Regions from separate parts of the Homo sapiens genome. Here region 2 is linked to region 1. Evidence: fine-mapped expression QTL. A gene starts in region 1. The other region holds a variant in brackets. All regions are shown on one strand. Distances are from middle to middle. Region 1 holds the start of RBX1 (ring-box 1). Region 2 overlaps XPNPEP3 (X-prolyl aminopeptidase 3).

Evidence for each region. PIP is the estimated chance that this variant, and not a neighbour inherited with it, causes the effect.
Region 2: its variant is fine-mapped to the expression of RBX1 in monocytes after Pam3CSK4 (Quach 2016, PIP 0.95).

Annotation. Positions count from the first base shown.
Region 1 is chr22:40,939,309-40,954,870 of GRCh38, reverse strand. RBX1 (ring-box 1) reads right to left here and starts at 3,493. Exons shown (of 5, transcript NM_014248.4): 1 at 3,395-3,493; 2 at 1,238-1,316. The coding sequence starts at 3,472. RefSeq lists enhancers at 2,173-2,761, 3,217-3,426, 3,941-4,531 and a silencer at 3,477-4,056.
Region 2 is chr22:40,863,132-40,879,177 of GRCh38, reverse strand. It overlaps XPNPEP3 (X-prolyl aminopeptidase 3), which reads right to left. Exons shown (of 10, transcript NM_022098.4): 2 at 10,063-10,179. LOC124905124 (a long non-coding RNA gene) reads left to right here and starts at 1,583. Exons shown (of 3, transcript XR_007068111.1): 1 at 1,583-1,769; 2 at 3,030-3,115; 3 at 3,527-3,831. The variant G/ACG (reference allele first, on the strand shown) is at 10,750.

The DNA.
Region 1 (15,562 bases):
AGGTTGCAGTGAGCTGAGATCACGCCACTGCACTCCAACCTGGGCGACTCCATCTCAGAATAAGGAAAAAAAATGGAAAACTGGCCGGGGCCATGGCTGCTTTGGCCACCGTGGTCAGTTAAAAAAAAAAAAAAGCATCCAGGTAAACTAACAGAGTGAGCAGGAGTGACTCAAGACAAAGTTGTAAAGGCAGGTGAGTGATCTGAAAAATAAGTTCCTATAATTCCATTTCTAGAAACTTAAAGTTTCTTTCCTCCATTTCTGGCCTCAGTAACAAATCATTTTAGTTCCCGGATGAAAAAGTAACCTCAACTGTTCCTGGTGTGATCAACATTCTTGTCCCTTCTACTGTAAGGACAGGAAATCAGTTCATCAAAGACTATAATCAGATCACTATGTGCTGACCACTACATGTAATAAAATATGTGGAGATTTAAATGAAATTTCTTTAGTGCAATTAATTATTTATTTAGATGTTGGCAATGATTTCCTTTTTATTATGTTTGGGCCTAACATACAAAATCCTCACTCCTTAACGCTTCTTTCCTTTGTAAACAATGACCAGCAAAAATTAGATCAGATAGACTTTTTTTTTTTTTTGAGACTTTGAGTCTTGCTGTGTCGCCCAGGTTGTAGTGCAGTGGTGTGATCTCGGCTCACTGCCACCTCTGCCTCCCAGGTTCAAGCAATTCTCCTGCCTCAGCCTGCCAAGTAGCTGGGATTACAGACATGCACCAGTACGCCCAGCTAATTTTTGTATTTTTAGTAGAGACAGGGTTTCACCATGTTGGCCAGGTTGGTCAACTCCTGGCCTCAAATGATCTGCCCGCCTTGGCCTCCCAAAGTGCTGGGATTACAAGCATGAGCCACTGCGCTTGGCCTCAGAATATTTTAGCTCAAAGTTTATTTTCCTCCTTTCACTATTTCTACCTTTGAGTCTAGGTACAAGATGGAAGATATGCAGGAAAAATCAACAGTGCCTGTCGTCCACAATTAATTCTAAATGTGTCCCTGCCATCTTTAGATTGAGTAGATTTATTCTGAGAGCTGGGTATGCCTCCAGGACATCATAAAAAAACTACTCTATTTCAAACACACCAACAGACTAGATACAGAAGACCGAGTGCTCAGAGTAGGCTTGCTATCTCCTCGTGTGAAGAAGAAAATCAGTCACATCAAGATAGCCACAATCTCTGCAACCTTCTCAACTTCCTCCCATCCTCCTCCAATTACTTACAAAGATCCATAATGTGGTTCCTGCAGATGGCACAGTTATCAACCACAATATCCCAGGCCCAGAGGGCTACTGCATTCCACTGCAAAGACAAAAAGAGGGAACAGTGCATTCTGCTTGTAACACACACACATACTCTTTAGGACCTCAGGCTGCAGCTGCAGTTATCATCTCTTTGGCCACAGGGAACCACCAAACAAAAGTTTTTGGATATTACGTTAATCTTATTATACCAAAGACAACAGTAGACTACACGTATGTTCTATTCTCCAAAAGGCTGAGTATATGAACACAGAAATTAATGTCATCTTTTAATTTGTTTCCTATAGTTTAAAATAATTTAGTCTGGCCGGGTGCAGTGGCTCACGCCTATAGTCCTAGCATTTTGGGAGGCCGAGGCGGGCCGATCACTGAGGTCAGGAGTTCAAGACCAGCCTGGCCAACATGGCAAAATCCTATCTTTACTAAAAATACAAAAATTAGCCAGGCCTGGTGGCGGGTGTCTATAATACCAGCTGTTTGGGAAGCTGAGGCAGGAGAATCGCTTGAATCTGGGGGACGGAGGTTGCAGTGAGCCAAGATCGTGCCACTGCACTCCAGCCTGGGCGACAGAGTGAGACTCCATCTCAAAAAAAAAAAAAAAAAAAAAAAAAGGGCACAAACTTGAATTTCTGTGCAGGTTTTGGTGGCAGTTGCAGAAGAGCTCAAAATCTGAATAAGTATCTGCTCTACACAGCTCTGGAAGCATGAGCAATGAAGTGAAAGCTAGAGAACAGAATGAACTAAGATAATGACTGGATCATAAAATGGGTAATCATGGGATAAGCTGGATAATTAAATACCCGTGTCAGTACACAGAACAAGGTCATCACTTAAATCTTAGATTACTTCATAACAAATTCTACAATTCACTAGAATTTTGATTCTTACCATAAAATAAACTGATGTTCTCAACTTTTATATGTTTAGACTCTTCTATTAAGATAATAATTCCAGTAAGAGTTTAACAGAATTTCATTCATTCAACTCTGGCTTCCTCAATTACAAATACTCCCAAACCTTCTTCGCTTTCAAACCCCATTCTCAGTGCCTAGTAACTTCTTTACCACTTTTCACATCACAGCTTCAAGGTGGAGGAAAAGCCCCTACTTCTATTATTTTTCAATATGGCTGCTGGCTGTAACTGAGCAGCAGTGGCCACAATGAGACACCAAAAAGCACTAGGACGGGGGATATTGTCAGTGTTTAGCCAGATGTTCTAGGAATATCTTCCCTATTTTAGAATCTCCATTTTGAACAGCTTTCATGTTAGGTGAGAATCGATACTGTTCTCCCAAACTGTGGCAAACCACTAAAAGGCATTTCATGCAAAAAGACACGTTCCATTTTTGCTTTCCCACGCTTACCAAGTCGTTCGCGACTAGTACTCAACCCTCCCTAACTGCCACAGGATTTGGGCTCGGATTTTCTTAACAAGTTCCACCATGCTTTTTATTATTATTTTGGAAGGGGGAGATTCTGGACGTGACAGAGAACCCAAGAGTGGGGTGGTTGTGTGAAAAGCCAACAGACGTCTCAGAAGAGCCAAGCATTACACTCCAGACTCTAACCAGGCAGTGTGAGGCCTCGGTTCAGCGAGGATCCCTCCAAGTGAGAGGACCCCTCCAAGTGAGAGGACCCCAAGCTTCAAAAAGGGGCGGAGCAAGATCACCAAGGGGGGTCCTCAGAGGCCTCTAATGCGGTAGGACCTCAGGTTCCAGGCTCTCGCCGCACTGCCCCATCCTCCACCGCCGCATTCGCTTCGACTCCCCATTCCACCCACCCCACCCCACCCTACCCTGTCCTTCCCCCACCTCTCAACCACTCCAGTGACAGCTCAAGCGCTTGGCTCCCGCCGCCAAGTCGCAACCCCGCGTATCTCAATAAGCAGCTCTGTGATTGGCCCCTTAGCCTCACAGCGAAACCAACACTTCCCCCAACAGTGGGCCGCCGTCACGCCGATCAACTCTAAGACCCGCCCCCCGGCTTCCTTTCGTGGTACCCGGTCCCAGGAACGCCCTGAAATGAAACCCTTTACTCCGCGCCTCGACCATCCTCGGGCCTGCCAGCCAGATCCGCGCCTCTCTAGCTTCCCTGAGGAAGGCGCTGGCGAGACCCAACCTTTTTCACTTCAAAGCGCTTCTTGCCCGCGCCGCTGTTGGTGCCGCTCGGGGTATCCACATCCATCGCTGCCGCCATTTTGGAAACACACGGTCTGTCGTCCGACCACCGCGCCTGCGCAGCAGCGCACACTTCGCTCCCCCCACCTCCCCGGCACCTCCTCCCGCACCCCACCCCTTACTGGCGCGCGAGGCGGAGGTGGGGGCGGAGCACGTGACCACGCCTCTTAAAGGGGCTGTCGCAGGTCGCCCCACCCGCGAACTGTAGGCCGGGGAGGGGGCGGTGGCCGGAGTGGGTGGGGCGGGGCCGGGCGGGGCCGGGCGGGGCCGAGGCTACGTGAGCTAGCCGGGTGGAAACGTTCGAAAGGGCTCGACGTCGCCGCCTCCTCTGGGAAGCCCCCGGCCGCACTCCGTCAGCTGGGGCGGCGGCTGCTTCCTCCGCCTGAGCCAGACCTGCGCCGCAGTCCTGTCCTGCCTGCCGGGCTCGCCGAGTCGCCGCGCGGCTCCCGGTGCTGGCGTGGGTGGGCGCCCGCGGCCTGCCCCGAAACCCAAGAGTCCTCGCTGGTCTTTCGCAGACTCTGACCCGCTTCCGAGCCAGGCCCAAGGTGCAGTCCCCGTGGGAGGGCTGGGGCCCAGGCACCGTCTGGTCTCCGATTTCTGTTCGGGAACTGCTCAGGGATTCGATGGGGAGAGAGGAGACCCCCGAAGTTCCTCCCTAAGGCCACACTGAGCAGGCCCCCAGCCCTGCCTTTACTCGCCCGCCAAGCCTGGGGGGTGGCCTCTGCGCCCACATAGTCGCAGTCCTAGGACCGCCTTTGGTCGTGGTGCACGGTTTCACCGTAACGTGTGTCAGTCCCCACTCCGCATTCCTCAGTTGTCATCTTTGTAGGGTGATTTCTCCCCGATCTGTGTCCTTTTTCCGCTGCTTGTGCTGTAGTGAAACCGACCCATCTGCAGTCGCTGTATTTCTTGAATTTTTGTGAGGCATTCTTTTTTAACTCTTGTTGCCCAGGCTGGAGTGTAATGGCGCGATTTCGGCCCACTGCAACCTCCGCCTCCAGGATTCAAGCGATTCTCCTGCCTCAGCCTCCCGAGTAGCTGAGATTACAGGCGCCCGCCACCACGCCCGGCTAATTTTTTGTATTTTTAGTAGAAACGGGGTTTCACCACGTTAGCCAGGCTGGTCCCGAACTCCTGACCTCAGGTGATCCGCCTGCCTCGGCCTCCCAAAGTGCTAGAGCCGCTTTTTTTTTTTTTCTTTTTTAATTTTTTTAAAAAATAGAGACAAGGTCTCACTATGTTGCCTAGGCTGGTCTCGAACTCCTGGGCCCAAGTGATCCTCCCACTTCGGCCTCCCAAAGTGCTGGGATCACAGGAGTGAGCCATCCCACCCGACCCAAGCACCTGTACTTTGTCACTCTCCCATTTCTGGCTAGACCAGGACTCCCTTTGACATCTCTAACCTTGCAGAGGTGTGACTCTGCCAGAGCACTCTTAGATGTCGTACAGGTGCATTTGAAGCCTTGTATTTTCTCTTAAAAGATAACTGGCGGGTAATGGAGCGTGCTGACTCTATTGCTAAAGAGAAAGAATAGGCTGGGCGCGGTGGCTCACGCCTGGGAGCCACTTTGGGAGGCCGAGGCAGGTGGATTACCTGAGGTCAGGAGTTTGAGACCAGCCTGGCCAACATGACGAAACCCCGTCCCTACTAAAAATACAAAAATTAGCTGGGTGTGGTGGCACGCGCCTGTAGTCCCAGCTACTCAGGAGGCTGAGGCAGGAGAATCTCTTGAACCCGGGAGGTGGAGGTGGCAGTGAGCCGAGATCGAGCCACTCTACTCCAGCCTGGGTGACAGAGCGAGACTCCGTTCCCCCCCAAAAAAAATAATAAAAGAGAAAGAACTGAGATTTGTTTGTTAGTTATAAACAGCAACAACAGATCCGGGAAAAGACCACCACAGCTTTATCCAGACTTGGAAAGAAAAATTGTGTGAGACCTTAAAGGGCTACAAGAACCCTACAAAGTTTTTCTTAGCCCAAGTTTTAATGACTTTGTTAAAATTTCTGTTGTTAATTTGTTGTGTGCCTACAGGCCCTGACAGGAATACTAGAAACCCATTGTAAATTAAGGTCTTGAAGACATATTTATCAATCATTCAATAAAAGTATTGATATTTACCAGGTTCTGTTTTAAACAGAAGAGACATAATAACAGAGTCAAATAAACCCCTAGTTAGGGAATAATATGCAAGTCAACAAATAAATACATCAAGAAGTCTCAGGGCCAGTCGAGGTGGCTCTAGCCTGTAATCCCAGCACTTTGGGAGGCCGAGGTGGGAGAATCACCTAAGGTCAGGAGTTAGAGACCAGCCTGGCCAACATGGTGAAACCCTGTCTCTACTAAAAATACAAAAAAATTAGCCGGGCGTGGTGGCGGGTACCTGTAGTCCCAGCTACTCAGGAGGCTGAGGCAGGAGAATGGATTGAACCCGGGAGGTGGAGGTAGCAGTGAGCCAAGATCGTGCCTCCAGCCTGGGCAACAAAGTGAGAGTTTATCTCAAAAAAAAAAAAAAAAGTTTCACGTATCCGCCAGGCGGGGTGGCTTAGGTCTGTAATCCCAGCACTTTGGGAGGCCAAGGCAGCCGGATCACTTGAGTCCAGGAATTCCAGACCAGCCTGGCCAACATGGTGAAACGTCTCTACAAAAAATACAAAAGTAAGCTAGGCGTGGTGGCACATGCCTTTAGTCCCAGCTACTCTGGAGGCTGAGGGGGGAGGATTACCTGAGCCCATACATGGAGGTTGCAGTGAGCTGAGATGGCGCCACTGCATACCAGCCTGGGTGACAGAGCGAGACCCTATCTCATAATAAATTAGTAAAAAATGCTGCATTGAAAAAAGTCTCTGGCCGGGCATGGTGGCTCATGCCTGTAATCCCAGCACTTTGGGAGGCCGAGGTGGGTGGATTACCTGAGGTCAGGAGTTCAAGACCAGCCCAGCCAACATGGCAAAACCCCATCTCTACTCAAAATACAAAATTTAGCCGGGTGTGGTGGCTTGCACCTGTAATCCCAGCTACTTGGGAGGCTGAGGCAGGAGAATTGCTTGAACCCGGGACGTGACAGTTGCAGTGAGCCAAGATTGTGCCATTGCACTCCAGCCTGAGTGACAGAGTGAAACTCTGTCTCAAAAAAAAAAAAACAGTCTCAGGTATCAATAAGTGTTGTGAAGAAAACAAGGTAATGAGATTGAGGGGAGAAGGAGGCAACAGTAAATTGGGTGATTAAATAAGACTTCTGTGAAGAGTGACATTTAAGCTGAAGTCCTTTAAATGGTCCTACATGATCTACTTCCCCATCCAATTTACATGTACCTTCTAACATATTTTTTCTAAGTTGGGCATGTGGTCCCAGCTACTCAGGAAGCTAAGGAGGTGGGAGAATCCCTTGAACCTGGGAATTCGAGGCTGCAGTGAGCTGAAATTGCACCACTGCACTCCAGCCTGAGTGACAGAGCAAGACCCTATCTCCTAACAAACAAACATATTTTGACATTTACTTGTGTATTAGGATTATTGTTTTTTGTATGTCCTCAGCAAGAAAAGGGAATTTTGATTTGTTTATTGGTAACAAAAACTGGTACATTGTATGTGCTCATTATGTGTTGAGTAAATAAATTTGGAGCTTACTGAGCAAGCAGAAAGTAGTAAGAGATGTCAGAGAGGCAGGCAGGGGCCAGAGCATGCAGGGATTTTATTACAGATCTTATGGGAAGGCATTGAAGGTTATTATTTTTTTTCTTTTGTATGGTCTTGCTCTCTTGCCCAGGCTGGAGTGCAGTGGTGTAATCTCAGCTCACTGCAGCCTCCAACTCCTGGATTCAAGCGATTCTCCTTCTGCAGCCTCTCCTGTAGCTGGGATTATAGGCACCCGCCACCAACGCCTGGGTAAGTTTTTGTATTTTTAGTTCAGGTATCCTCCAGGAAGGGTGGCTTGCGCCTGTAATCCCAGCACTTTGGAAGGCCAAAGCGGGCAGATCACTTGAGGTCAGGAGTTCAAGACCAGCCTGACCAACATGGTGAAACCTCATCTCTACCAAAAATATAAAAAATTAGCCAGGTGTCGTGGTTCGCGCCTGTAATCCCAGCTACTTGGGAGGCTGAGGCAGGAGAATCGCTTGAACCCAGGAGGCAGAGGTTGCAGTGAGCTGAGATCGTGCCACTGCACTCCAACCTGGGCAACAGAGAAAGACTCTGTCTCAAAAAAAAAAAAAAAGAACAAAAGTCTTAGAACTGAAAAATGCAAATAACTGAATTTAAAAACTCTCAGTGGATGGGATCAATAACAGAATGGAAGTGACATTTTTCCCAACAGAAGCTGGGAGGAAAAAAAGACATGGAAGTGACAGAAGAAAAAAAAATAACTGAACTGGAGGATAGAACAGTAGAAATAAGGCTGGGCGTGGTGGCTCACACCTCTAATCCCAGCACTTTGGGAAGCTGAGGCAGGTGGATTGTCTGAGCTCGGGAGTTCGAGACCAGCCTGGGCAACATGGTGAAACCCTGTCCCTACTAAAAGTACAAAAAATTAGCCAGGTGTGGTGGTGCGTGCCTGTATTCCCAGCTACTCAGGAGGCTGAGGCAGGAAAATCACTTGAACCTGGGAGATGGATGTTGCAGTGAGCTGAGATCGCACCACTGCAATCTAGCTTGGGCAATGGAGTGAGACTGTCTCCAAAAAACAAACAAACAAACAAAAAAACAATAGAAATTACCTGATCTGAACAAGAAAGAGAAAATAAAAATAGACTGAAAACAAAATTAAAAACAGAGCCTGTGGACCTGTGGAAATACTACAAAAGATCTACTATTTCTGTCCTCAGGGTTCCAGGAGGAGAGAATAAAGAGGGCCAGGTTGAAAAGGTAATGGGTAAAATAATGGCTGGATACTTGCCAACTTTGGCAAGAAAAATCTATAGATTCAAGAAGCTGAGCAAACACTACACAGAATACACCCATAGAAATCCATGCCACAACACATCACAATTAAACTTCTGAAAACTAAAGAGAGAAGAAATCTTGACAGCAGCCAGAGAAAACACCTTACCTAAAGACGAAAAATCATTTGAATGGCAGATTTCTCACTGCAAACCACAGAAGCCAGCAGAAGTGGCAAAATGTTTTTCATGCAAAAAGCGAATACAAAAAAACACCTGTCAACTCAGAATGCTATATGTAGTGAAAATGTCCTTCAGGAATCAAGGGGGAATCAAGACATTCTCAGAAGGAAAACTAAGAGAATTTGTCACCAGTAGGCCTTCCCCAAGAAAGGGCTAATGGAAGTTCTCTAAAAAGAAAGAAAACAATAAAACAAGGACCTTGGAAAATTAGAAAAAACAAACACGAAAGTAAAAATATGGGCAAATGCAATAAGCTTTTCTTATCCTTTTGAGTTTTCTAAATTATGTATGACAGTTGAAGTAAAAATTCATTTTGGAGACAGAGTCTTGCTCTGCTGCCCAGGCTGGAGTGCAGTGGGGCCATCTCGGCTCACTACAACCTCCACCTCCCGGGTTCAAGCAATTCTCATGCCTCAGCCTCCCAAGAAGCTGGGACTACAGGTACTTGACACCACGCCTGGCTAATTTTTTGTATTTTTAGTAGAGATGGGGTTTCACTGTGTTAGCCAAGATGGTCTCAATCTCTTGACCTCATGATCTGCCCACCTCGGCCTCCCAAAGTGCTGGGAATGCTATAATTTTTACTTTAGGTCGGGCGCAGTGGCTCATGCCTGTAATCCCAGCACCTTGGGAGGCCAAGGCAGGCAGATCACCTGAGGTCAGGAATTCGAGGCCGGGCGCGGTGGCTCACGCCTGTAATCCCAGCACTTTGGGAGGCCGAGGCGGGTGGATCACGAGGTCAGGAGATCGAGACCATCCTGGCTAACACGATGAAACCCCATCTCTACTAAAAATACAAAAAAATTAGCTGAGTGTGGTGGCGGGCACCTGTAGTCCCAGCTACTCGGGAGGCTGAGGCAGGAGAATGGCGTGAACCCGGGAGGCAGAGCTTGCAGTGAGCTGAGATCGCACCACTGCACTCTAGCCTGGGTGACAGAGCGAGACTCCGTCTCAAAAAAAAAAAAAAAAAAAAAGGAATTCGAGACCATCCTGGCCAACAAGGTGAAACCCCGTCTCTGCTAAAAAAAAAAAAAAAAAAAAAAAAATTAGCTTTGCATAGTGGCACATGCCTATAATCCCAGGTACCCGAGAGGCAGAGGTTGCAATGTGCTGAGATTGTGCCACTGCACTCCAGCCTGGGTGACAGAGCGAGACTCTGTCTCCAAAAAAAAAAATTATAGCATTATCTAATATAGTCCTAAATCTATATGGAGAAAATATTTCAAACAATTATCGTATAAACTGGGAATGGTGAAGGGACACAGAGGGAGGTAAGGTTTTTATATTTCTCTCAAACTGGTAAAATGATGACATTAGTAGACTGTCATAAGTCATGTATATATGAGCCATCACTTAAAAAGCTATACAAAGAGACACACTCAGAAGAGAAACACTATAGATAAAATGGAATTGTAAAAAATGTTTAACACAGAAAGGCAGAAAAACAGAGAACAAGCAGAAAACAAAAAATAAAATGAGGTGGGGCACGCTGGCTCGCATCTGTAATCCCAGCACTTTGGGAGGCCAAGGCAAGAGGATCCCTTGAGCCCAGGAGTTCGAGACCAGCCTTGGCAACATAATGAGACCTCATCTCTACAAACAATACACACACACACACACACACACACACACACAGACACACACACACAAACATGAGTGTGGTGGTGCACAACTGTATTCTTAACTACTTGGGAGGCTGAGGCAGGAGGATGACTTGAGCCCACCAATGTCAAGACTGCCGTGAGCTGCGATTTCGGCACTATACTCTAGTGTAAGTGATAGAGTGATACCTTGTCTCAAAAATAAAATAATCACTTCAACCTGAGGAAGCTGATTAGAAAAATAGAAAAAAATAAAATGACAGACTTCAGCCCTAACATATCAACAATTGCATTAAATGCAGATGGTCTAAATATGCCAATTAAAAGAAATTGGCAGAGTGGATTTTAAAAAAAACCAGTTGTATGTTATCTGCAACAAATTCACTACAGATATGATATAGGCAAGTTGCAAGTAAAAGGATGAAAAAAGTTGTGTCATACAAGCATTCATCAAAGGAAAGCAAGAGTGACTATACTAAAATAAACTAAAGTGGACTTTGGAGCAAAGAAAATTAACGTAGAAAGAGCGGGACATTATACGATGCTAAAAGAGTCAATCCACTAAGAAGACATAGCAATCCTAAATATGTATGCACTAAAAAACAGCACTGCAAAACATGTGAAGTGAAAACTGACAGACCTAAAAGTAGAAATAGATAAGTCCAAGCCAGGTGCAGTGGCCCACACCTGTAATCCCAGCACTTTGGGAGGCCGAAGTGGGAGGATTGCTTGAACATAGGAGTTGACTGGTCTGGGCAACATAGTGAGACCCTGCCTCACAAAAAATAAAAAAAAATTAGCCCAGCATGGTGCCACACACCTGTGGTCTCAGCTACATGGGAGGCTGAGGTGGGAGGATCTCTTGAGCCTAGGAGGTCGAGGCTGCAGTGAGCCATGATTGCACCACTGCACTACAGCTGGGTAACAGAGTGAGACCCTGTTTCAAAAAAAAAAGAAAAAAAAATCTAATGACTTAGGCAAAATTGATCACTTCCTCAAAAACAAGTTACCACAAGTCATCCAAGATGAAATAATTTGAATAGCCCTATAACTTTTTTTTTTTTTTTTGAGACAGAATCTCACTCTGTTGCCCTGGCTGGAGTGCAGTGGTGTGATCTCGGCTCACTGCAAACTCTGCCTCCCGGCTTCAAGTGATTCTTGTGCCTCAGTCTCCTGAGTAGCTGGGACTGCAGGCACATGCCACCATGCCTGGCTAATTTTTGTATTTTTAGTAGAGGCGGGGTTTTGCCATGTTGCCCAGGCTGGTGTCGAACTACTGACCTTAAGTGATACACCTGCCTTGGCCTCCCAAAGTGCTGGTATTACAAGCGTGAGCATGGGAGGTGGAAACTGTAGTGAGCTGAGATCGTGCTACTGCACTCCAGCCTGGGCAGACCCAGAACTTGTCTCAAAGGAAAAAACAAAAAGTTGAGGATCATCTATAATTTTATGAAGCTAGTTTTACTCTGATAACAAAACCAGACAGAGTACAAAAAAGAAAACTACAGAAATAATAACTGTCATGAATATACACACAAAAATCCGCAACAAAATATTAGCAAATGATAGCTACAAACATTTTTAAAATTTTTGTTAATGGGACAAAATATTAGCAAATATAAAAATGATTATTCACCATGGCCAAGTGGGGTTTTTTCCAGGGATGCAAGGCTGGTTCAATATTTCAAAATAAATCAATGGATTCTTCCATATTAATGGGCTCAAGAAGAAAAATCACATGATTATATCAATAGGTGCACACAAAACATTTGCAAAATTAAACATCCATTCATGATATAAATTCTCAGAAAAACAGAAGTAGAAGGGGAACTTCTTCAATGTGATAAGGAGCAGGTACAAAAACCCGCCGATGTTATACCTCTGGTCCTCTGTATCTGTGGATTCAACCAACAAGGGATCAAAAATACTTGGGGGAAAAAACCCAATAAGGATGTTGTGTTTGTACTGAACATGTACAGCCTTTTTTTCCTTGTCATTATTTCCTATCTAGACTATATGGTACGTCAACTATTTACATAGCATTTACATTGTATTATAAGTAATCTAGAGATAATTTAAAGGATGCAGGAAGGTATGCCTAGGTTATATGCAAATACTACACCATTTTATCTCAGGGACTTGAAGATCCTGGGATTTTGGTATACGTGGGGGATCCTGGAGCCAATCCCCCATGGACATCAAGGGACAAGTGTACTTAATGGTGAAATGCTGAATACTTTCTCCTAAAATTGGGAACAAGGCAAGAAAGGCCTCATCACTCTTTCACTGTTATTTATTATAGCACTAGAACTTCTAGCCAGTGGGACAAGACCAAAAAAAAAAAAAAAAAAAAAAAAGGAAGTAGCCAGGCGCAGTGGCTTACGCCTGTAATCCTAGCACTTTGGGAGGCTGAGGCGGGTGGATCACCTGAGATCAGGAGTTCCAGACCAGCCTGGCCAACATGGTGAAACCCCGTCTCTACCAAAAATACAAAAATTAGCCAGATGTGGTGGTGTACACCTGTAATCCCAGCTACTCGGGAGGCTGAGGCAGGAGAATCGCTTGAACCAGGGAGCCGGAGGTTGCAGTGAGCCCAGATCGCACCATTGCACTCCAGCCTGGGTGGCAGATTGAGACTCTGTCTCAAAAAAAAAAAAAGGGAAGTAAAAGGCATACAGGTTGGAAAGGAGGAAATAAAACTGTCCCATTTTTAGATGACACATGGTTTATGTAGAAAATCTCAAGGAATCTAGCAAAACTCTTACAACTAAATGAGTTCAGCAAGGTTACAGAATACATGATAAACATACCAAAATCAATTGTATTTGTATATACTAGCTAAGAATATGTGGACACTGAAATTGAAAGGAATATGCCACTTCTAATCATCCAAAAAGTGAAATAGTTAGGTGTAAATCTAACAAAACATACTTCAGACTTGTGTGCTGAAAACTACACAACACTGATAAGAGAAATAAAAAATATATGTATATTTTTGAGACACAAGCTCCCTTTGTTGCCCAGTCTGGAGTGCAGTGGTGTGATCTCAGCTCCCTGCAACCTTGGACTCCTGGGCTCAAGCAATCCTCTTCCTTCAGCATTCCGAGTAGCTGGGACTATAGGCGTGTGTCACCATGCCCAGCTAATTTTTTGGTATTTTTTGTAGAGATGTGTCTCACCAAGTTTCCCAGGCTGGTCTCCAACTCTTGGCCTCAAGCAATCATCGCTCCTCAGCCTCCCAAAGTGCTGAGATGACATGCATGAGCTACCATACCTGGTCTACACATTTTTTTACAATAAATAGACATACGGTGTTCATGGGTTGGAAGATTCAATATTGTAAAGATGTCAGTTTTCACCAAATTGATATACAGTTTAACAAAATTCCTATCAAAATCCCAGTAAGTTTTTTTTTTATTTATAGACAAGATGATTATTTTATTTTTTTCTTTTTTGAGACAGAGTCTCGCTCTGTCACCCAGGCTGAAGTGGAGTGGTGGGATCTCGGTTCACTGCAACCTCCACCTCCCAGGTTCAAGTGATTCTCCTGCCTCAGCCTCCCAAGTAGCTGGGATTACAGGCACCTACCACCACGCCTGGCTAATTTTTTTTTTTTTTTTTTGAGACGGAGTCTCATTCTGTCGCCCAGGCTGGAGTGCAGTGGCATGATCTTGGCTCACTGCAACCTCTGCCTCCCAGGTTCAAGCAATTCTCTTGTCTCACCCTTCTGAGTAGCTGGGACTACAGGTGCCCACCACCACGCCTGGGACTACAGGCGCCTGCCACCATGCCCAGCTAATTTTTGTATTTTTAGTAGAGACGGGATTTCACCATATTGGTCAGGCTGGTCTCAAACTCCTTACCTCAGGTGATCTGCCCGCCTCAGCCTCCGAAAGTACTGAAATTACAGGCGTGAGCCACCGCGCCCAGCCAATTTTTGTATTTTTTTAGTAGAGATGGGGTTTCACCATGTTGGCCGGGCTGGTCTCAAACTCCTGACCTCAGGTGATCTGCCTGCCTCCACCTCCCGAAGTGCTGGGATTATAGGCATGAGCCACTGAGCCGGGCCTATTCTAAAATTTACATTAAAAGGCAAAGGAACTAGAATAGCTAGAACAATTTTGGAAAGGAAAAATAAAGTGGGAGGAATCTCTTTACCTGCTTTCAAGACTTATTTTTTACGACTGCAGTAATCAAGACTGGTGTTGGTGGAGGATAGACACATAGACCAATGGAACAGAATAGAGAACCCAGAAAAAGACTCACTCAAATATGCCCAACTGAATTTTGACAGAGGTACAAAAGTAATTCAGTAGAGGAAAAACACACCATTTTTAACAAATGGTGCTGGAGCAATTGAACATCTGTAGGCAAACAAAAACCAAACCAAAACAAAAAACCCTTGACCTATGTCTCACATGTTATCCAAAAATTAACTCAACGTGTATCATGAACTTAAACCTAAAACTATAAAACTTTTAGAATTAAGGCCAAGCGCGGTGGCTCACGCCTGTAATCCTAGCACTTGGATTACAAGTAATCCCGAGATTACAATCTCGGGAGGCTGAGATGGGTGGATCACTTGAGGCCAGGAGTTCAAGACCAGCCTGGCCAACATGGAGAAACCCGATCTCTACTAAAAATACAAAAATTAGCCGGGCATGGTGACGGGCGCCTGTAATCCCAGCTCCTTGGGAGACTGAGAGGCATGAGAATCGCTTGAACCTGGGAAGCAGGGGTTGCAGCGAGCCGAGATAGTGCCACTGCACTATAGCCTGGGTGACAGAGTGAGACTCTGTCTCAAAAACAAACAACAGCAAAAAAAGCCAGAAAAAAAAAAAAAACTTAGAATGAAAGAGGAGAAAATTTGCAGGATCTAGGGCCAGACAGAATTCTTAGACTTGGCACCAATAATAGCATGATCTATAAGTGGAACAATCGATAAATTGAACATTAGAATTTAAAACTTTTGCTCTGTGAAAGGGCCAGTTAAGAGGAGGAACAGACAGCTATAAAGTGGGAGAAAGAATTTGCAAACCACATATCTGACAAAGCACTAATAGGTAGCATATATAAAGAAAGAATTCTTAAAATTCAGCTGTCAAAAAACAATCCAATTAGAACATGAGCAAATGGCAGGAAAAGAGATTTCATTGGAGAGGATATATGTAATACAAATGGCAAGTAAGCAGATGAAGAGATGTTCAACACCATTAGCCATCAGAGAATGCAAATTAAAACCACAACGAGATATCACTACCAATCAGAATGGCCAAAAAAACCCAAAAACAAAAAAAATCAGTGACAACACCAAATGCTGGTGAGGAGGTGGAAAAACAGAATGACTCATACATTGCAGGTAGAAATGCAAAATGGTACAGTCACTTTGG
Region 2 (16,046 bases), 76 kb after region 1:
AGATTGAGCTGGCTAAGAGTCTCCTAGGTTTCTTAGGCAGAATACTGAACTTTGTACTACAGCTATTTATTTCCTTGATAATTATTCATGTTAAGTCTGCCACTGTTACTCAACATTGAAAATTTCCTAATTTACTCAAGTAGTAAATACTCTTACAAAAGCAGAGGCTGGTTATAACTGATGAATTATCCGACCTTTCCTTTTTTTCATCTTATTTTCTTCCTTTCCTGAACTTTGCTTTTGGCTATTTCACAGCTATAGTCCATAAAATAAAAAGAAATTTAAAAATCAGCTGGGTGCAGTGGCTCACGCCTATAATCCTAGCACTTTGAGAGGCCGAGGCAGGCAGATCACCTGAGGTCAGGAGTTCAAGGCCAGTCTGGCTAACACGATGAAACCCTGTCTCTACTAAAAATACAAAAAATTAGCCAGGTATGGTGGCGCACACCTGTAGTCCCAGCTACTTGGGAGGGTGAGGCAGGAGAATTGCTTAAACCCAGGAGGCAGAGGTTGCAGTGAGCTGAGATCACACCACTACATTCCGGCCTGAGCGACAGAGTAAGATTCCGTCTCAAAAAAAAAAAAAGAAAGAAATTTAAAAATCAATTCTTTTTTATTTCAGAAGGTAAGAAAATCCATAATTTTAATAACTATGTGTTATCTCTCATTTTCATTAGTAACAGTATACATTAACACATATCAGGAAGTTACTTCTAAAACAAGAAAATTATTTGGAAATCAAAGCAGGATCAAAAAAACCATCTTTTATACCCTTCAAAGTATTCCTATGTTTGCTGAATCCAATTTCATACAATTGACTACATGAGAAATATTTAAAACACTGGCTATATTTTCCCAAACCTATTAATTATCAACACTATTGAGTGATCATTAAGTAAATGCTTCTAAACTTCTAAAATCTCAACGCAACAAAGCACTCTCCATCACAACACATTTTTTTTTTTTTTTTTGAGATAGAGCTTTGTTCTTGTTGCCCAGGCTGGAGTACAATGGCACAATCTCGGCTCACTGCAACCTCCGCCTCCCAGGTTCAAGCAATTCTCCTGCCCCAGGTTCCCAAGTAGCTGGGATTACAGGAATGTGCCACCACGCCCGGCTAATTTTGTATTTTTAGTACAGATGGGGTTTCACCATGTTGGTCAGGCTGGTCTTGAACTCCTGACCTCAGGTGATCCACCGGCCTCGGCCTCCCAAAATGCTGGGATTACAGGCGTGAGCCACTGTACCCAGAAACAAAAAATTTACTCAAGAAAAAAGAAACCTTTCCATGTGAAGGAGGAAAAAAAATGTGTTAAAGCAATGACCTTTAAACCCTAGGAGTAAACTTGGAAGGTGTTATGGCCTTTGATCACAGAACTCAACTTTATAGTCAATCTGGCCTGAATTTCTTCTGATAAAACTATATCTCAATAGATCCTCAGGCAACGTGGTAAAACTGTAAAGAATTAAAAAACAAAGTCAGCATTTTATGATGTGGAACCACTTAAGATGGAAAGGCTCTTCTAACAAGTTTATTGAGCCAATCGAAAGCCTAGATATTGGAAGCTGGACTCTGCAAAGTCTCACTATCAGTTCTGAGATTCTGCAGCCAAGAAGGAAAGCTCTTCCAGGACACTTAAGATCATGCCTCTCGAAGAGAAAAGCAATAATGTTCTTCATATTTTACCAGCTACACAAAACACCCAGAAAGGAAGATATAACAAAGACTGAAAATGGATGAAATGATACAGGTCTCTACTACAATCTAGGTTTGTATTTTTAATTATTTCCTGAAACTAACTAGATTAGAATTTTAACATGGTCTGATTTTGAAAAGAAGTCTGCTTAATATTAGGTAGTTTTCGCAGCATATAAGGAAGTAATTAATAAACTATTACTGTGCAGTTGGAGAATGGGGTGAAAGAAAAAGCTAGTGTTTCCTTTATAATGTAAAACAGGCCTCTCAGAAAAAATGCAATGACTGAATAAAAAATACTCTAAATAGATTTGCATATATTGAGCAAAACTAAACAAACAGAAAGGCTACATATACATATTATGATTCTGTATGATTCTACTTACACAAAGTCAAGAAAAGGCAAAACAGTCTATGATGACAGAAACCAAAAGAGTGGCTGCCTATGAAGGTGGAGACTGACTGGAGGAGCATGAGGGAACTTTCCAGGACGATGGAAATGTTCTGTATCTTGACTGAGCTGTAGGTTACCTTTGTTAAAGCTCACTGAACTGCATATGTAAGATCTGTGAAATTCGCTGCATATAAATTTTACCTGATTTAAAAAAAGTATACTACTCTCCAAACTTGAAATAACTTTTATACTAAGACTTCTCTCAGATGGATGTCTTATAAAAAATGTAAGGAGAAAATACTTTAAAAAATATTACCAGATAGTATTTTTTGGCATAGGTATTATACACTGTTTTGTGGTTGAAAGTGTGGATTCTGAGTTAGGTTTTTGTGAGTTGGAATCCTGGCTTAGCAATTCACTGAGTGACACAGGTATTATGTTTGGCATAGGTATTATGCACTGTTTTGTGGTTGAAAGTGTGGATTCTGAGTTAGGTTTTTGTGAGTTGGAATCCTGGCTTAGCAATTCACTAAGTTTGGAAAGAGCTACCAAACTTCTCTGTGCCTCAGTTTCCTCATGTAAAATGGAAATAACAATAGCACTGACTTCACAAAGTTGTTATGTGGATTATACAATAATCCACCTAAGTGGATTTAAGTAATAAAACACTTAAAACGTAACACTTAGCACTACATAAGTATTAGCTATAATTATTACCAAAATAAAAAATTTACACTTGAACTGGTTGTCACCCGGGAATCCAAAGCCAGGCAGGATCTTAGAAGAGTAAAATTTACATGGACAACCGCTATTATGACAACAAATGAAATCAAAATAATTATTTACATAGAAGACCTGGAAGTCTTTGGCTTTTTCACATGTTAGGAATGAATCTCCATTGACCATTTAGAAACTTTTCATTATTATTCATTTCTTTAGGTAGCTCCTAATTCTTGTCTAGGGCTGATTCTTGCTAATCTTTACCTCAGAGAGTTTCTCAGTGTCAATGAGGACTACACACAAAGGTAAAAAAGAGAAATACAAATGTCATTTATTTATTTATTTTTTGAGACAGAGTCTTGCTCTGTTGCCTAGGCTGGAGCACAGTGGCGCAATCTTAGCTCACTGCAACCTCTGACTCCTGGGTTCAAGTGATTCTCATGCCTCAGTCTCCTGAGTAGCTGGGATTACAAGCATGCACCACCATGCCTGGCTAATTTTTTTTTTTTTTTTTTTTAGTAGAGGTGGAGTTTGCTACGTTGGCCAGGCTGTTCTCAAACTCCACGCCTCAAGCAATCGGCCCACCTTGGCCTCCCAAAGTGCTGGGATTATAGGTGTGAGACACCGTGCCCAGCCAAGTCATTTATTTTTAATTTTCTAGTATTTATACTACATGAAAACTTTATTATATTTCAAGATTTTCTATTTCTCCCTAGGGCTTAAAAACAAACAAACAAACAAACAGGGAAATCCTCTATAATTCTTCACTAGATGGTGGTTTACAGATTATTGGTATAATGGCATCCTGAAATGGTCTATCAATATGTACTAGACATGTAAGTAAAAAACAGGTTTATTCATCTATAAATTTATTTACATAGAGACTACATTATTTATTCTGCATTAAAATTGAATCAGGAGATGAAGACAAGAGGAAACATTTAATCACTATGAATACAGTGATTTAAAAAAATTATATAAGTAAGCCCTGGCAACAAAGTGAGATCCCATCTCTACAAAAATTTAAAAAATTAGCCAGGCATGGTGGCTTATGCCTGTAGTCCTAGCTACTTGGGAAACTGAAGTGGGAGGATCGCTTGGGAGGTCGAGACTGCAGTGAGATATGATCATGCCGCTGCAGTTTAGCCTGGGAGACAGAGCAAGACCCCATCTCAAAAAAAGCAAAAACAAAAACAAATAAAATTACATAGGTACATTGGGGTGAGAAAATAAAATATATTACTTTATAAAACAGGTGGGCTTCATGGTGAAGTACTTATAGAAAAAGTAGACCTTCAACTTAAATTTAAAACCTGTAGGATACAAAACTTTTAGTCTACTATTCTATCAGGTATAATCTATTAAAAAAGTGTTGAAATGGTTAGATAAATGTAACGTCATCACTTATTGATGGTGGTGATGATGATAAAGATGTGAATGAATTTAAGGACTGAGTGACTGGGGATGAGACTACAGAGGCATGTGGAAGGCACATTCTCTGCTTTAAAACATGACCAATGGCCACAGAACTGGCTTGTCCCCTTAAGTCATCAGGCATCTCATGCACCTAGCTAAATGAGTACCCACTAGGTTAGTGGTGTATGTGAGAAACGCCCGGGGAGCTCTTCAAAACACATGTTCCGGTTGGGTATGGTGGCTCATGCCTATAATTCCAGCACTTTGGGGGGCCAAGGTGGTAGAATTGCTTGAGTCCAGGAGTTCAAGACCAGCCTGGGCAACATAGTGAGACCTTATCTCTATAAAAAATATAAAAATTAGCTGGGCATGATGGTGCATGCCTGTAGTCCCAGCTATTCAGGAGGTTGAGACAGGAAGATTGTTTGACCCCCGGAGGTCAAGACTCCAGTGAGCCATGATCTCGGCACTGTACTCCAACCTTGGAAACAGAGTGAGACCCTGTCTCAAAAAAAACAAAAACAAAAACACATGTTCTAAGCCCTCCCTTTGAGATTCTCATTCAACAACTCTATTTATAGAGTCCTAGCACGTATGTATATTTTGAAAAAGCTTACCCAACAGTCTAGGCAGGTTCAAACCACTTCCAATTTCTGTTATTTCTTGATTCCTTTTAATTTTTTAAATTCTTCTGAGATAGGGTAACACTCTGTCACCCAGGCTAGAGTGCAGTGGCGCAATCATGGCTCACTACGGCCTTGACCTCCTGGTCTCAAGCATCATTTTATTTATTTTTTATTTTTCTTCCTAACTCCCCAAAGTTGTTATCAAGCATCATTTTAATCTTTTAAATAGTATAAAAATCTTACCACCACCAAAATAAGCTTTGTCTTTTAGATATTATTAAAATCAACCATATTTAACAAGTTTTAAAAATAAAATGCATCCCTTGCTCAAGAGACGGCTACAATTAAACTATCACTGAAAGATGGGCAGCTGATTTTGAAACTCTTAAGGGAAAAAGATTTGGGGATTATTATCTATAACCCACTCTAGAATCAATCATTTCATCATTTTAAATATTATATTCACTGTAACTGTACTGTCTCTGCCATTATATTTATTTATTTATTTTATTTCTATTTTATTTTATTTTTGAGACGGTCTTGCTCGGTTGCCTAGGCTGAAGTGGAGTGGCACAATCTCAGCTGACTGCAGCCTTGACTTCCCAGGCTCAAACAATCCTCCTACTTCAGCTTCCCAAAGTGCTGGGATTATAGGCGTAGCTAGGACTACAGACATCTGTCAACACACTCAGCTAATTTTGCTTACTTTTTTGCAGAGATAAGGTCTCACTACGTTGCCCAGGCCTCCCAAAGTGCTGGGATTATAGGCGTGAGCCACCGCACCTGGCTTCTGCCATTATAGTTGACGATAGAGATGAAACGGTAAATGGTGAAAGCATCGTCTTATATTTCATGCCACACAGTTGCATTCTGATTATTTCCCTAAAAATCTGTTTGCTGCTGTAGTTGAAAACCAAGAAGTGGGCCAGGCATGGTGGCTCACGCATGTAATCCCAGCACTTTGGGAGGCCAAGGCAGGCAGATCACAAGGTCAGGAGTTCAAAACCAGCCTGACCAATATGGTGAAACCCCCTCTCTACTAAAAATACAAAAATTAGCCAGGTGTGGTGGCGCACACGTGTAGTCCCAGCTACTCTGGAGGCTGAGGCAGGAGAATTGCTTGAATCTGGGAGGCGGAGGTTGCAGTGAGCCGGATCACGCCACTGCACTCCAGCCTGGGCGACAGAGCGAGACTCTGTCTCAAAAAAAAAAAAAAAAAAAAAAAAAGAAAAAGAAAAAGAAAAAGAAAACAACCATGAAGTGGTTCTACATATGTCAGACAAGTTATTCTGACAAGCCCAACTCCCTGAGTAGCCCTTTTTAAACCTAGCATTCCAAACTATACCACATATTCTAAAACTAATTTTAAGAATGTAAAAATTTTAGAAATAATGCTTCATTAGGAATTCCACTGATTCTTCCCGTTCATTCTCTGATATGTTTCAGTGTTTTTTTGAGATGAATGTCTTGCTGTCCTGCTAATGACAACATTACTCCTTTGGCAATAATCAGGGAACCATGGAAGCATCTTTCTTGTACAGATAATATAATATAATCTGTACAATCTGTAAATATCGCTGGGTGTGGTGGCTCACACCTGTAATCCCAGCACTTTGGGAGGCTGAGGCGGGTGGATCACCTGAGGTCAGGAGTTCGAGACTAGCCTGGCCAACATGGTGAAACCCCATTTCTACTAAAAATACAAAAATTAGCCGGATGTGGTAGCAGGCGCCTGTAATCCCAGCTACTTGGGAGGCTGAGGCAGCAGAACTGCTTTAACCCGGGAGGCAGAGGTTGCAGTGAGCAGAGATTGTGTCATTGCACTCCAGCCTGGGCGACAAGAGCGAAATTCCGTCTCAAAAAAAAAAAAAAGTAGACTCACAGTTCAGAATGCCACTTGCCTTCCTACATGGAATCATTTTCATGTCTGAGTGTCAAGTGTGAGACAAGGTAGTAATCAAAGAGACTGACCAACATTTTCCATCTCTACCGATACAGACCTTAGCACAGAGATGGCACTGTCATAAAAAGCAGAAATGGTCTACAGTGCTCAGATTTCTCTAAGGAAATGACAAGTTTTGAAAATCACTAGAACCTAGCCGTAAAATCACAGAACCTAGCACAGCCAGAACAGAATTTCTTTATTTCCTGTATCATCCTGCTAAATATTTTCCAAGCTATTGATGCTTCAGGAAACTTGGATAGGTAGGTATGGCAAAGAAAAATCTAGGAAAAATAGCTCCCAAGAATTCAGAGGAACTGGCCCAGTAATTTCACTTTTGTTTTTGTTTTTGAGACAAAGTCTCACTCTGTTGCCCAAGCTGGAGTGCAATGGCGTGATCTCAGCTCACTGCAACCTCTGCCTCCCAGGTTCAAGTGATTCTCCTGCCTCAGCCTCCTGAATAGCTGGGACTACAGGCATGCGCCACCATGCCCAGCTAATTTTTCTATTTTTAGTAGAGACGGGATTTCACTATGTTGGCCAGGCTGGTCTCGAACTCCTGACCTCGTGATCCATCCACCTCAGCCTCCCAAAGTGCTGGGATTACAGGTGTGAGCCACCGCGCCTGGCCCCAGTAATTTCACTTCTAAGAATTTAAGGAAATAATAGAGCAATATGCAAAGAATGTGTACACATGTACACTTATACACACATACACCTATGTAAGAAATAGGACTAAAAAGAAACATATACCAAAATCCTCTCAACAGTGGCTTTCTCTGAGTTGTGGGATTATTAGTAATTAAAAAAAAAATCTATGCTTACCTGTATTCTCTTTTTCTGTATGTATAGAACTTGCGTAATAATTAGGAAAGGCATTGAGATGTTTCCCAAAAGTATTAAGTACATACTGCCATGTATTAGAGAAATATGCAAAACATGAAACCTTTTGGAGAAACCAAGTGCACATTACATAATTTTATATCCTAAACTAACAAGCCAACTGCGTAAGAGACTTTTTTTGAGAGAGAGAGACACGGTCTCATTCTGTCACCCAAGATGGAGTGCAGAGGCATGATCACAGCTCACTGCATCCTTGACCTCCTGGGCTCATGCAATCCTCCCACCTGAGTCCCCCGAGTAGCTGAGACTATAGGCAGGAGCACTAATTTTTTTTATTTCTTATAGAGACAGGGTCTTGCTATGTTGCCTATGCTCGTCTCGAACTCCTAACCTCAAGTGATCCTCTCATCTTGTCTTTCCAAAGTGTTGGGATTATAGGCGTGAGCCACTGTACCTGGCCTAAGAGACTTTTTAAGTATTACATGCCTTTAAATTTTTTTTCCTTTTTTTTTGAGACAGAGTCTCCCTCTGTCCCCCAAGCTGGAGTGCAGTGGCACAATTCTGGCTCACTGCAACCTCCGCCTCCCAGATTCAGGTGATTCTCCTGCCTCAGCCTCCCCAGTAGCTGAGATTATAGGCATATGCCACCACACCCGGCTAATTTTTTTTTTGGGGGGTATTTTTAGTAGAGACAGGATTTCACCATATTGGTTAGGCTGGTCTCAAACTCCTGGCCTCAGGTGATCCACCCACCTTGGCCTCCCAAAGTTCTGGGATTACATGTATGAGCCACTGCGCCCGGCCCCTTTTAATTTTTCTTAAAAATTTACTCTGCTTCACCCTACAATCACTTTAACACTTCCACAAGTTTTGCATCTCTGGAAGGAGAAACACAAATGATTAATTCTTTTGATACTTTTGTCTGCAGAAAAATCTGTACCTAATGGTACATCTGATAGTTTGAGGTTTAAAATACTAATAATTCTGTTTTAAAATTCCATCTACTTCCATCCCTTCTCACTTACCCCAATGTCCAAAATCCCACGTCTAGGAGAGTAAAATTAGGACAGGCATCCCTTTTCCCCCAGATATTCACATACATATGTATGTGAACATATACGTGTACATATTTATTTACATTCACTTATACTTAACATGCACTTAAGGTATAGAGCAAAAAAATCTAGATACAGAGGCCATTATCTTGACAATATAATTACTAGGTTTAAGGCCTGGAAAATGCAGCTTACCATGTAAAAATATCTCACCACAAGAAATCAGTAATTTTCAAAGCTGGTAAAACTATCAATTCTACTTAAAAAAATAACTCGAGTCTACAGGTAGGTTGATAGGGTAGATAAATACTAAAATTAATACCAACTGGGTTGCTATTAAGCTTACCTTACAGCTTTGAAAAACTCTGATTTCTTGTGGGTTTCAGTGGTGAGCTGCATTTCCTTAGTTTCAGCCGACTTCCCAGCAGGAATTCGAGTCTGATGAAAAATCAGCAAAAGGAAGCCCTCACTGAGAAACATACTGGTATCATTCACTGAGTGGGGATAGTGAAAAAGGAACATATTTCTAAAGGTAAATTTCCATTAGTAATATATATGCTTATATGGCAAATACATATTTAATTTCTTATGGCAGAAAGAACAATTAATTTTCCTTGAAAACCTGATTGCTTTTTCTACAATGTGTTTGCTTTTACCCTACCTTCCTCTCTGAGATATTCATTAGTCATAGTTCACCCCTTAAGTGCAAGAAATCAAAACAAAAAACCTTTAGGTCTAAATTTGAGCAATAGTTATAAGACATCTTCTGGCAGCAACGCTGGGATCTTATAGCAGAAAAAAAAATTAGTAAAACAAACCTTTATCATTTTTTTGCATCACCTTTATCAACTGGGATACTACCTCTCAAATCTGTGACAAACAAATCTGGAAATCTTGCTTAATCTATATAGAAATAGGTTATAATTTTAAAGTAAATATTTGATAATTTCAAGAAAAAACATGTTTTCTAAAATGTCTTTAACACAGTAATTCACAATAGTATACAATTCTAAAAGCTGACTTAGAAATAGAACTTTGCTTTAAAAACATCCTGAAATACATACCTTTCATTAATTATTCTGAATTATAAGGTCTATCATATTTAAACCTTGTTCTAGACTAGTATTGTCAATAAAGCACCAGTACCCACATGTAGTTAAGCTTAAATTTAAATTAATTAAAATTAAATAAAATAAAAAGTTCAGCTCCTCAGCTGTACTAGCAACCTTATTAGTGTAAAATGGCCATGTGAGGTTAGTGGCTACCTTATGGAACAGCACAGATCCAGAGCTTACTGCAAGAAGTTCTATTGCATAGCATTGCTCTAGACAGAACCTAAATGGGGAGATAGCACAGTTAAAAGGCCTTACCTGGTCTGAGGAGGTGTGGGTGTGTAAAGGGGCTGGGCTGGCCTAAGTATCGGTTTGGAATCCTCCTTTCTGGGACAGGCTGAAGGGAGTACCTTCGCTGTGAACACAACATACATCCTGAATGAAGAATAAAGAGAATGAAATGAAACAATAGATCTAGAAAGTCTTCATGGTATAAATACACTTATCTCTAGCAGTTTAGATGCTTTAGAAAAATGCAAACTAATATTTCCTTCCTTCTCTCCTTCAATATTCATTTATTTTTTTTTTAAGACAGAGTCTCACTCTGTCACCCAGGCTGGAGTCAGTGGCATGATCTCGGCTCACTGCAACCTCCACCTCCTGGGTTCAAGTGATTCTCCTGCCTCAAGCCTCCTACATAGCTGGGATTACAGGTGCGTGCCACCATGTCTGGCTAATTTTTGTAGAGACGGGGTTTAATCCTGTTGGCCAGGCTGGTCTCGAACTCTTGACCTCAAGTGATCCGCCCACCTCGGCCTCCCAAAGTGTTGGGATTACAGGCATGAGCCACTGCACCTGGCCCTCCTTCAATATTTATATGGCCTTTGCTCTGTGTCAGACTCTGTGTTGGGCCTTAGGAAAACAGAAATGAGATCTTTACCCTCAGAGACATTTGTCTGCTATAATATTTTATACACATACACACACACACACACACACACACAC[G/ACG]CACACATATATAATAAAGGTATGAATAAGGAGCTATGAAAACAGAAGAAAGGAACCAAAAAAGGCAGGGGAAGGATATCACAGAGGCAGTTTGAAAGGGTATCACAGAGATAGCATAAAGCTGTGTCCTAAAACTCAGGAAAAGATAATCAACATTTTTTATTGAGAATATGTTAAGCATGAGAAAATATGCACATGCTATCTCATTTAATCTTGGAATGTCAGAGCTAGATAAAATAATTTATGAAAAATGCTTAATCATAGAGTACAACAAATGTTAGTTATTAGCATTAATTAAAAAATTCTTTGCACATGATTGGAACATGCTCAAAGAAAGACACATGAATGACAAGGCTATATGCTGTGGTCTTTAAAGAATGCACAGTCTAGTGGAGGTGAGACAAAATAGAGCATTACAATATTAAATGGTGAATGCAACAGTGGATTCACACATAAGGAGTTTTGTTTGTTGGGTTTTTTTTTTTTTTTTTTGAGACAGGTCTCACTCTGTCGCCCAGGCTGGAGTGTAGTGGCATGATCATAGCTCACTGCAGCTTTGTTCCTCTGGGCTTAGGCAATAAATGAAATGAAACAATAGATCTAGAAAGTCTTCATGGTATAAATGCACTTATCCATCTCCAACAGTTTGGATGCTTTAGAAAAATGCAAACTAATATTTCCTTCCTTCTCTCCTTCAATATTTATTCATTTATTTATTTTTAAGACAGAGTCTCACTCTGTTGCCCAGGCTGGAGTCAGTGGCTCAGCCTCCCAAGTAGCTGGGACTACAGGTATGTGCCACCAAGACTGGTTAATTTTTTTTATTTTTGGTAGAGATGAGGTCTCACTATGTTGCCCAGGTTGGAAACCCACACCAATTTCTTTGTAATCATCTTAGAAGCTATGATTTTTCTTTTTTTTAAATCTTTTTAGAAGAAGCTATGATTTTTCTAAACAATCTTCTACAAACTGGAATTAACTTTTAAGACTCTTCTCTCCCAAATACATATATTATTATTCATAATTCATAGTCCTTACAGAAATTGTATGTTCACAAGGAGATTGTACAGTATTGATTGTTGAGATTAAACAGAGAGGACCTAGTGAGCGGCAAGGGGGAGGGATAAGAGCAAAGATTATGAAGTCAAATAAACCTGAGTTTGAATCTCAGCTTCTCTGGTACTAAGTGTGTAACCTTGTCCAGATTACTTCTCTGAGTCTGATTCTGTGTTTGTAAAATAATGATGATAATGCCTACCTCACGTGACAGTTAAAAATCTAACTCCTTAATTTAGAATACAAAGCCTTCAAAGCTATCTTACCTTCCTAATCTTTTCATCTCCCTCCAGCAGCACTAACCCACTGGTGGAGTAGGCTGCTGTTGCATTGGTGATTTCTCTTTCTCTCCTCCTGCACCTTCTCCACATGCACGCTCGTGCACACGTACTCATGCACACATAGTGTCTTCTGTAATCTCATTAGGCAGTAAAATTTCAGAATATAAAAAGTTAACTGATTCCTTTTTCAATGCTCATATGAAATAATCCTAGCATATTTTGGACCACTCTCAAGCAGAGGGAGCTTAACTTTATTAAATTCAAAGCAAACAAGTAACACTTTAACAGGAGACATAAATTAAGATGTTTATTCCCAGTAAATTTTTAAAAAAGGTCTCAATAGCTTTTTACTTACATTAAACATCTTTTGCCCGAAGTCATATAATTAGTAGCAAAGCTGGTGTGTTAAGTCCTATTTCAAAAATATCCAGTTCATAAGCTTCAAACTCTTTTGCTTAGGAAACTTCATGATTTGGATCCTGCTCCCTTATCTGACCTAATCCTCAAAAAACATTATTGCAGCCACACTAAGCTACTTGAAGAACCCCGGCTAAATCATTCTGCATCATAATAGCATTTGCATTAAAAAATATAGTTCTCTTAGTCTAAAGTGGACACTGCCTGCTTATACGATTACAGAAATTCTAAAAAATACCAGCTCAAACATCACTTACGCAAGAGACTTCTCTTACTCTTCTCACACCTACTGCCTCTGTTCTGCTTGTTTCAGATGTCTTCCCCAACGCTCCTATGATTTCTATTTTAATACCTACTACACTTCACATAATTGCTAATTAGTTTGCCAGTCTACTATGAACAATCTTTGGAAGCAGAGATCACTTGTTATTTGACTTTATTTTCCCAGTGACTTGATTTGAAATGTATTTTGAAGTTAAAAGTCAATGAGTCTGGCTTCTAATTGGACATAAGAAATAAAGAAAAAAGAGGAATTAAGAATAATTCTTGATTTTTGACTTGAACAAGTGAATAAATGGTTGTACCACTACATGCAACAGGAAAGCCTGAGATATTTATTGGAAATAAATTTAATGGAGAGGTCAAAGAGCAATCTTAATTTCAGGGAGAAAAGTGCTAGGCTAGATATATAAATTAGGGTGTTATAAGCACACAGATGGCATCTAAAGCCCTGGGAATGGGTATTACCCAGGGAGACTGAACAAAGCCTGGCACTGTAATATTTTAGTGTGAGAAAGAGCACAGGAGAAAGAAGGAAAACTAGAAGAGTACAGTATTTAGTGCTGGGCATGGTGGCTCATGCTTGTAATCCCAGCACTTTGGGAGGCCGAGGCAGGCAGACAGATCACTTGAGGCCAGGAGTTCGGGACCAGCCTGGCCAACATGGCTAAACCCTGTCTCTACCCGCTGCCCCCCCGCCCCCCACAAAAAAAGAGTGTGGTATTTAGGAAGTTAAAAAACAAGTGTTTTAAGAAGTGGGGAGGACTATGCCAGGCGCAGTGGCTCACACCTGTAATCCCAGCACTTTGGGAGGCCGAGGCAAGTGGATCACCTGAGGTCGGGAGTTCGAGACCAGCCTGACCAACATGGAGAAACCCTGTCTCTACTAAAAATACAAAATTAGCCAGGCATGGTGGCACATGCCTGTAATCCCAGCTACTCGGGAGGCTGAAGCAGGAGAATGGCTTGAACCTGGGAAGTAGAGGTTGCAGTGAGCCGAGATCACACCACTGTACTCTAGCCTGGGCAACGAGAGTGAAACTCCATCTCAAAAAAAAAAAAAAAAAAAAGTGAGGAGGGCTCACAGTGTGGCAAGTGCTTCAAAATACAAGGAAGCCAAAAGGACAACCACTGGATATGGTAACATCAATCACTGGAGACCCTGGCGATTTTAGCAGAGTAAAGAAGACAGAAGACAGATTGGAGTATGCCAAGGAGGGAATAGGATGTAAGAAAGCAAAGACACTGAGACAATACTCTGGATAAGTTTTGTTGTGAAGAGGCAGAGAAAATGGCACAGCGGATGGCTGGGAGGCAAAGGATCAACAAAGAAGGGTATAACTGCAGAAACAAGTGCTCGTATTATAACTTTACACTCCACTGAAATTAGTTTTTTCAAACTATATGAATTTCTTAAGAGCAGAATTTCCTATTTTCTACCTTTTCTCTGTATCATAGTGTCAGAGGCGTTTGAACCAGAGCAACTCCATCTTCAGTAGGGGTTTGGTAAAATAAGGCTAAGACCTACTGGGCTACATTCCCAGTAAGTTAAGGCAGTCTTAATCACAGAATGAAATAGGAAGTCAGCACAAAATGCAGGACACAAAAACCCTGCTAATAAAACAGGTAGGTTATAGTAAAGAAGCTGACCAGCTGGGTGCGGTGGCTCATGCCTGTAATCCCAGCGCTTTGGGAGGCTGAGGCGGGCAGATCACCTGAGGTTGGGAGTTCGAGATCAGCCTGACCAACATGGAGAAACCCCCTCTCTACTAAAAATACAAAATTAGCCGGGCGTGGTGGTGCATGCCTGTAATCCCAGCTACTCAGCGGGCTGAGGCAGGAGAATGGCTTGAACCCGGGAGGTAGATGTTGCAGTGAGCCAAGACCCCACCATTGCACTCCAGCCTGGGCAATAAGAGCGAAACTCCACCTCAAATAATAATAATAGTAACAATAATAATGAAAATAAAATAAGTCCCTGTCAAATTTAGACACTGCGAACATCTTCTCCTAGACTGTCACCTTCCTGTGAGCTTTACCTGTGATGTTCTTAAAAAAAGGAGCTGGCCAAACCCCACTAAAACTAAGATGGCAATGACAGTAACCTCTGATTGTCCTCACTGCTACACTCCCACCAGCACCCCAAGAGTTTACAGATGCCATGGCAACGTCAGGAAGTTACCCTATATGGTCTGAAATGGGGAAGCATGAATAATCCACTTCCTGTTTAGGATATAATCAAGAAATAACCATAAAAATGGGCAACCAGCAGCCCTTGGGGCTGCTCTGCCTATGGAGTAGCCATTCTTTATTCCTTTACTTTCTTAATAAACTTGCTTTTACTTTACTCTGTGGATTCCACTGAAATTCTTTCTTGCACGAGATCCAAGAACCATCTCTTGGGGTCTGGATTGGGACCCCTTTCCGGTAACAGCAGGTTCTCAGTATCTGTTTGTGGAATGCCTAGAACCTAAACTCTTTAAGTCCTAGTCCGAGAAATGCAGTAGAGTGGAATGAGAACTTGAAATTAGACTCAAGTTTAAAAATCAGATTTTTCACTAACAAGCTATGTAGCCTTAGACAAATTACTTTCTCTCTCAGAACGTCTGTTTTCTTATGGGCATAAAATATTTATTTTGCTAGAGTGCTGTGTCAGTTAAATGAGCACTTGCTACAGTGTGACTCAGAGGGTACTCAAATAATTTTCGACATTATTGGTTATTATTTCCAGTGGTAGGCAAATTATAATCATGGGTAAGCCACACATAAGTACATGTAAGCACATACACTGGAGAGAATTTAAATTGAGTTTTAAGCATTTCACAATACCTCTAAAAAATGAGTATATATAAAAATGCAAAGCAAAAAAATATTCAGACCTGACAAATGGTCTTGAAAGACTAGAAGCATACACTACAGTTTTAGATTTCATTAGCGTATCATTTAACTGAGGGGTTATAAATGTGATGGAAAATAAAATAAACACAACATAGAGGAGGAAAAACAAAGATTACAGGGAATTTTCTCAGACAATAAAATGAGCCAGGTATAGAATATAAGACCTTTAAATTCGGGTCTAGACTACTGGTAGTTTATCCCCAAAGAAAATCACCTTTGGTCTGTTTCTAATTTGGCTCTCGAATTCTACTTTCCCATACATGACTGAATTTCCAAATAGTAGCCACTGATCCATTACAAATGTAAATCACATCATTAAACTTGCATATTCCCCACTCCCCACAAAGGCTTCCCACTGTACTTGAA